Linked DNA regions of Homo sapiens. The protein of the gene in region 1 purifies or fractionates together with the protein of each later gene. This does not show direct contact. Each region holds a gene or a part of one and is shown in the gene's direction. Other genes may lie near its edges. The genes, in order: BUD23 and KIF2A.

Region 1 (3,818 bases):
ACTCCTTTACCATGTCCACTTGTGTTTCTGCCTTACCAGCTCACGGATGATTGATATCCAGACCAGGATGGCTGGGCGAGCATTGGAGCTTCTTTATCTGCCAGAGAATAAGCCCTGTTACCTGCTGGATATTGGGTGAGATTCTGGGGCCTGGTTCAGATTGTCTAAGGTGGTGAAGTGTCTTTGTAAACTGACCCTGAGTGTCTGGTCATGTCTTCCAGCTGTGGCACTGGGCTGAGTGGAAGTTATCTGTCAGATGAAGGGCACTATTGGGTGGGCCTGGATATCAGCCCTGCCATGCTGGGTAAGTATGTCCTGTCTGGCACCAGGGTGGATTACCCTGATGGGTGTGGAGAAGCCACAGGTATTTCTCTTTCTCTGACTGCCTTTTCTCTAATGTAGATGAGGCTGTGGACCGAGAGATAGAGGGAGACCTGCTGCTGGGGGATATGGGCCAGGGCATCCCATTCAAGCCAGGCACATTTGATGGTTGCATCAGGTGAGGGTCTTTAATTCCTGCTTTTATTTATTTAGAGACAGGGTCTCACTCTATCACTTAGGCTCTAGTGCAGTGTCTGTGATTATGGCTCACACTGCAGCCTCCACCTCCTGGGTTCAGGTGATCTGCCCACCTCAGTCTCCTGAGTAGCTGGGACTACAGGCCCACACCACCGTACCTAGCTAATTTTTTGTTTTTTTGAGATGGAGTCTTGCTCTGTCACCAGGCTGGAGTGCAGTGGTGTGATCTTGGCTCACTGCAGCCTTCGCCTCCCAGGCTCAAGCGATTCTCCTGCCTCAGCCTCCCAAGTAGCTGAGATTACAGGAGCACGCCACCACACCCAACTAATTTTTGTATTTTTAGTGGAGGTGAGGTTTCACTATGTTGGCCGGGATGGTTTCAATCTCTTGACCTTGTGATCCACCCTCCTCGGCCTCCCAAAGTGCTGGGATTACAGGTGTGAGCCACCGTGCACAGCCTAACTTTTTTTGTATTTGTTGTAGAGATGGGTTTTTGCTATGTTGCTCAGGCGATCCACACACCTGGGCCTCCCAAAATGCTGGGATTATAGGTGTGAGCCACCCTGGCCTCTTTCTTCCTGCTTTTAGTCCTGCAAGCCAGTGCCTCCCAAACCTGGCTGTGCAGCAGACTCATGCAGATATTTACAAATACACATCCCATGGGATTTTCAGATTTACAAGGTTAGAGCAAGGCCCAAGAGTGTATTTTTTTGGATTCTAAAACTTTGCAGTCTGGCCAACATGGTGAAACCCAGCCTCTACTAAAAAGCCAGACGTGGTTGTTGTTTTTTTTTTTTTGAGATGGAGGCTCTCTCTGTTGCCCAGGCTGGAGTGCAGTGGCGGGATCTCGGCTCACTGCAAGCTCCGCCTCCCGGGTTCAAGCCATTCACCTGCCTCAGCCTCCCAAGTACTTGGGACTGCAGGCGCCCACCACCACGCCCAGCTAATTTTTTTATATTTTTAGTAGAGACGGGGTTTCACCATGTTAGCCAGGATGGTCTCAATCTCCTGACCTCATGATCCGCCCTCTTCAGCCTCCCAAAGTGCTAGGATTACAGGCGTGAGCCACCGCGCCCAGCCTAAAAAGCTAGACATGGTGGTGGCCACCTGTAGTCCCAGCTAGCTACTCAGGAAGCTGAGGTAGGAGAATTGCTTGAACCCGAGAGGCGGAGGTTGCAGTGAGCCGAGTCCACGCCATTGCACTTCCAGCCTGGGTGACAGAGCAACACTTCATCTCAAAAATAAAACTTGTCTACTATTGCGATTATTTTGCATTGCCGGGTTCGGGCACCACTGGTACAGATTCTGTGTCAGCTTTGTGTGTCTGGTGGGGCAGAGGAGGTGGTCTTTTAGTCTCTAGCGGCCATTTTATGGGCCCCAGCCATCTTGTGGGCCCCAGCAGCCATCTTACTTTATTTGCCAACAGATAACTGGTAGAGAGCGTCTGGACTTGCTCTAATCTCTTAAGTGCTTCACAGTCCTTTCTCTGTAATCAGAGTCGGGTTAAACATCCACATAGCACTTCAATAACAGATCTTAGAATGTTAAAATTGATTAAGTTTTTCTTAGGCTGCTGTGATCAGTTCTGTTTAGTTTTTGGTGTGGTGTGGGAGTGAAAGTGAGAAAATAGGGGAGGAAGTTACAAATCATTACTTGCAGGGGAGACTTCCTTTGGTTACCCTAAGTTGAGTGGTGGGGATGTGAAGTGGGGAGCCAGGTGAGAGGTAAAAATTCAGATTAGAAGATTTTCCTTTTACATCTGGGAACAAGACCCAGGGGGGTTGGGGAATAATTTCAAGGGTAGCAGATGCTTTTTGGTAATGGTCAGATGAGGTGTTTTAAGCTGTGAAAAACCGAAGGCCAGCAGTATGGTCTGTATGTTTCGGAAGGGGATGGTCAGTTTTTGTTTGTCTTCGGGGAGAGGTGAGATGGTATAGCAAACTGTTTTTTTGGAGACGGATTCTTACTGTATTGTCCAGACTGGAGTGCAGTGGCACGATCTCGGCTCACTGCAACCTCTGCCTCCTGGGTTCAAGCGATTCTCCTGCCTTAGCCTCCTGAGTAGCTGGGATTACAGGTGCTCACCACCATGCTTGGCTAATTTTTGTATTTTAGTAGAGATGGGGTTTCACCATGTTGGCCAGGCTGGTCTTGAACTCCTGACTTCATGAACTGCCCGCCTCAACCTTCCAAAGTGTTGGGATTACAGGCGTGAGCCACCGCACCCGGCCCAGACTTTTTTTTTTTTTTTAAACATTTGCTACATGTAAGGCGTACAAGGTGCTGTGGAGTACAGGGAAATGAAACAGTTTCTGCGTGTAAGACTCTCCACGGTTTATTAGGTGCTTTAGGACATGGACCAGGCAACTGAATATAAGGGCATGAGTGGTGTGTGCCCTAGGGAGTCATGGGGCTGCCAGAGCACAGGAAAGCCTTGGGTGGAGGGGCTGCACCTTGAAGGCTGGGAGGAATTTGGATAGTCAAGGAGAGGGTTTCTGAGTGAGGGAACAGTGGGCAGAGGCACAGATGCCGGTGGGAAAGGGGTCTGAGATGAGAGGGATGAACGAGAGATTCCACGGAAGATGGGGTTGAGTGTGGTTGCTTCCTAGAAGGCACTTAAGTGTGTCCTAAGAAGTTTGGGCTTGATGGAGTAGATGATGGGGAGTTGGCAGGTGACGGGATCAGATGTGTGTTTAAGGAAGGTGATTTTCTGGTGAAAGAGGAGAGAGAGTTAGGTGGAAGCATTTGAGCTGGTAGCACTGAGCATTGGTGCGGGGAAGTGAAAGTTGGGAGAGGCTGTGGGACAAGCCAGTGGGGTGGAGGTAGGGCTCTGTGTGTGTACAGCAGGGCGGAGGGGAAGGGCAGGAAGGAAGACATAGTGACTGGTTGAGGTTTTATTTATTTATTTTTTGAGATGGAGTCTTGCTCTGTTGTCCAGGCTGGAGTACAGTGGCACAAGGCTTACTGCAACCTCTGCCTCCCAGGTTCAAGTGATTCTTCTGCCTCAGCCACCTGAGCAGCTGGTATTCAAGGCACATGCCACCAAGCCCAGCTAATTTTTGTATTTTTAGTAGAGACGGGGTTTCACCGTGTTGGTCAGGCTGGTCTCGAACTCCTGACCTCAAGTGATCCACCCATCTCAGCCTCCCAAAATGCTGGGATTACGGGTATGAGCCAATGCACCTGGCTGCTTGAGGTTTTAAATCTGGGGGTTGTAAAGACACTTAACAGGTAGAGTGGAAGGGAGTGATTTAGGAGGAAGGGTGATGGGATGGCTGTGTGTATGTGAGTAGTCTAAA
Region 2 (3,818 bases), on another chromosome or scaffold:
ACACTCATAAGTATGAGTATAGGTGTTAACTTTGAAATCGTATCAGAAAAAGTATATGATATTTGATTTATACATTTTAATTTCTACGGAGCATATTTTATTTAAATTTATTGAACTTGAAGCAATTTTCGTTCTTTTCAGCCTTCACCTTCAGCCTATACCAGAAGTTCCCAGACATACAAGAGCTTTGTGTTCTTACATAAGTGCTACTAACCTAAAGCCACATTTCAAAAGCGGTTTGCCTATAAGAAATTAGGGAAGTCATCACAGTGTGTTATTATCCTAACCTATGGTCATGTATCTTTTTATGTGCCTCAGATGCATGATGGAGTTGGTGGAAGGCAGGAGATTAGTAGAGAACTTCGAAAGAACAGAAGGATCATTTGCATTGGACAGTAGTGTTTCACAATAGAAATTGATGTCTGGGAGAATGCCCCTCAAGCTTTCCCTTTTTCACTTTAAAGAAGCTTGTTTGCTTCCTCTCACTTCCATAACGTCTATATTGGATAAAACACTAGTGGTTATTATAACAAAAATAAACTTTGCAGTTGGAGGAACACTAATATCTGAGACAGTAGAAATGACATGAGTAAAGAAGGGCTGCTTCAGACCATTATTAACTGGTGACTTGATGTTTTTCTTTTGGCTTGCTGATGGCGATCCATGTCCCTATTTCAGACCACACTTTTCCCATCAGTGATACTCTTACACTAATAAACATATCCCAAGGGCAAACAGGTACACTAAAATGAGCTTATTCCTATCTTTCAAGACCATGATGAAAACTATCCTAATGAGTCTTCACTGATTACTAAAACCAGATGGCCAGTCAGCATCTGAATTCCTAAATCATTCTGTATTATTCATGAGACAGCATATTTCCTTAAGTATTAATGTTTGGGTCTGTAACTTTTTTTTTTCCACTCCTCTCAGCTCATACCTATGGGTACATATTCTTAATACTATGTTTTTAAACTGCATGGGGTAATGGGACTTACTAATAACTAATAATTCTTTTTTTTTTTTTTTTTGAGACAGAGTCTCGCTCTGTCAGTGGTGCGATCTCCGCTCACTACAACCTCTGCCTCCCAGGTTCAAGCGATTCTTATGCCTCAGCCTCCCAAGTAGCTGGGACTACAGGTGTGTGCCACCATGCCCGGCTAATTTTTGTATTTTTAGTAGTGACAGGTTTTTGCCACGTTGGCCAGGCTGGTCTCGAACTCCTGGCCTCAAGTGATCCACCCACCTCAGCCTCCCAAAGTACTGGGATTACAGGTGTGAACCACTGTGCCCAGCCTCTAATGACTCTTAAATTCCCTGAATGCATCTGTGTCATTACCCCCATTCCCACCCCCACTACTGGGATGTCTAGCAAAATTCCTTGCACATCGTTTTTGAATAAATCATACATTATTGGATTTTTTGTTTTCAAACATTTTAATTAATCATTAGAATGACATCTTAGCTGGAAGTGAAACCTTCCATCTGTGCTCCTCTGTACTGCTACCTCCCTACTCTGGCCCTCTACTTCCCGCTGGCCTGTTAGTCAGGAACTACAGCGTTAATTGAAATTGAGTGATCTGCTAAGGTTAATCTGACTTTTCTGGTTTTCTAAGGTTATCAGTGACAGGGGTTAGGCTTGGACTGCTAAGATTATTCTCTGCCACAGGAGATAACCTGGTATGAAATTGGACTGGTGTGTTTTCTTACATGTGTCTTCCTATTTTTCTGATTCAATTCCTTTCCCTTTTTAAAACCCACTGACTCTTAAAAAAACCTACAATCTTTCTGTCGTGTAGCTAGTTTGGTTTTTTTTTTCTTTTAGCTGTGCTGTTAACAGTTCTGTAGTAGCTGTGACTACCCTTTGGGGACTGGGGAAGAAATGGGAAATGTTGAACATTTGGAAGCTGCAGCTAATATGGGATTGTTCTTTGGGGGCGGGTCTCTTAGTCACAGTACTGTGACTGTATTGATACATGTAATCTGAAGAGAATCTTAGAATATTTCCACCAGAAAGGTTTTTGGAGATAAACTAGTTTTCATTTTTATAAATGTGGAAACTTGAGTCCCAGATCACCATAAGTGACTTATCTAGATTCATACAACTTGTCAATGGCAGCCAGGAACCTGACATGCTTAGCATAGAAATCAGACTATCAAGAACTATGACAGTAAAGGAGGAATTCTCTGTTATTTTGGAACCGTATACCGCTTTTTACAGCCCAGTCAAGATGTAGGAAATTGCTTCTTACTTCGGAGAAAGGCACCAGCGAGCAGTGTTACAGAGCTTGATTAGAATGATCCCTGGTAAGAAGTGCTATGTTACTACAAGTTCACCAAACCTAAAATTGTGGGAGGAAAGTATTCTTGTTTCTTAGTTAAGTATTGGTGTAAAGAGTTCCTTTTAACATCTGAAATCAAGAGGCAATTGAAGATTTCAAAGGACCCATCAGGAATTTTGGAGTTCAGGGCAGGCAAAGAAAATCTTTAGAAAAGATTTTAAATGGCCTAATTCTTTATATGCTTTGCCACATTTTTCTTCTGCTAGTTCATCTTTACACGTCACTATATAGGCTTCTGGAGAATAGCATGTGTAAATTTAAGTAATAAAGATGAACCATGTGGCAATACAGTTGTTCTTTAGGTACAATTATGTGATTGATTATGGGGGTGGGATGGAATAGGGGCATTTGTGACCTAATAGTTCCCTTTTCCCTGAGGACTAGGACGATAATGTTTCTGTATATGGATTTGTTAGGGCTTAATAGTTTTCCAAGTGCTTCAAGACATGTTAGCTAATTGGATCTTCACAGGAACTCTATGAGGTAAGCAGGATAGAAAGGTGGCAGATTATTGGTTTATAGGTGAAGAATCTGAGGTTGGATTATTTGCCAAGATCACATGGTTAATAAGGAGCATAGCCTGGGCCAAAGCCCGAATCCCTTCACTCCCAGCTCTCTAAGTGCTGCTGACAGATGTTTGCTGATTATGGTGTGAAGTTGTATACTTTAGTATTTCTTTCTGAGACATACAAACCCCTGTAGTAAAATTCTTTCCACTACTACCAAAGAAGCTCAAAAAACTTAAAATAGGCACTTATTGCTTCCAAAAGTACCACAGAAAGCCAGGAATCTGTATTCATTGCCTAGCCACTTGATTCTTATGACAAAGATTTTGAAACTCTGGGGAAAGGCTATGTGTCAACTTGTTTTATGTGTCATGATTGTTAAAATGCTAGAGAAAACAGCAAAGAGCCAGTTAAATCTGTGTCTGCTCAAATAAGACAAGGGGCAAGAGTGTGGAAAATCCAGAACAAGATTCCCTGAGAGATCATCTAGACCCCGTTCTTTCTAGTCAGAAGTATAGTTGTGATTAATATGACATTAATCTTTTGCAAAGTTTAATTCTTGGATTCAGCCATCTGCTTTAATTTTAACACATCTGTTTTGTAACCTAAAATAATTTTAAGGTGTTTGTTTATTTGTTTGTTTGTTTTGAGATTACGATTCTTAAGAATAGATACAAGTTTTAAACCTTGGATAAAACTAATTTTTATTCTTCTGGTTCAGTTGTAGAACAAATACAGGTTAAGTTGTCTTCCAGCTCTTTTAGATAAAGCAATATTAGTGGTTTTATAGTGCTAAGTGAAAAGAGACATTAGAATTTCACCATATTAAACTATCTCCCAAGAGTAATATGAGTGAGGGAAGTGTTCCTTTTAAAAGTCATGCTTCTAGGCTGAGCATGGTAGTTCATGCCTGTAATTCCAGCACTTTGGAGGCCAAAGCAGGAGAATTGCTTGAGCCTATGAGTTTGAG

The links.
Region 2: the proteins of BUD23 (region 1) and KIF2A fractionate together in Homo sapiens (co-fractionation; one large-scale study listed by BioGRID). This does not show direct contact.

The regions. Positions count from the first base shown.
Region 1 is NC_000007.14:73,686,597-73,690,414, forward strand, and holds part of BUD23 (18S rRNA (guanine-N(7))-methyltransferase), read left to right. Parts: intron 1-39; coding exon 40-135; intron 136-221; coding exon 222-304; intron 305-402; coding exon 403-499; intron 500-3,818.
Region 2 is NC_000005.10:62,309,057-62,312,874, forward strand, and holds part of KIF2A (kinesin-like protein KIF2A), read left to right. Parts: intron 1-3,818. UniProt on the Homo sapiens protein: Plus end-directed microtubule-dependent motor required for normal brain development. May regulate microtubule dynamics during axonal growth. Required for normal progression through mitosis. Required for normal congress of chromosomes at the metaphase plate.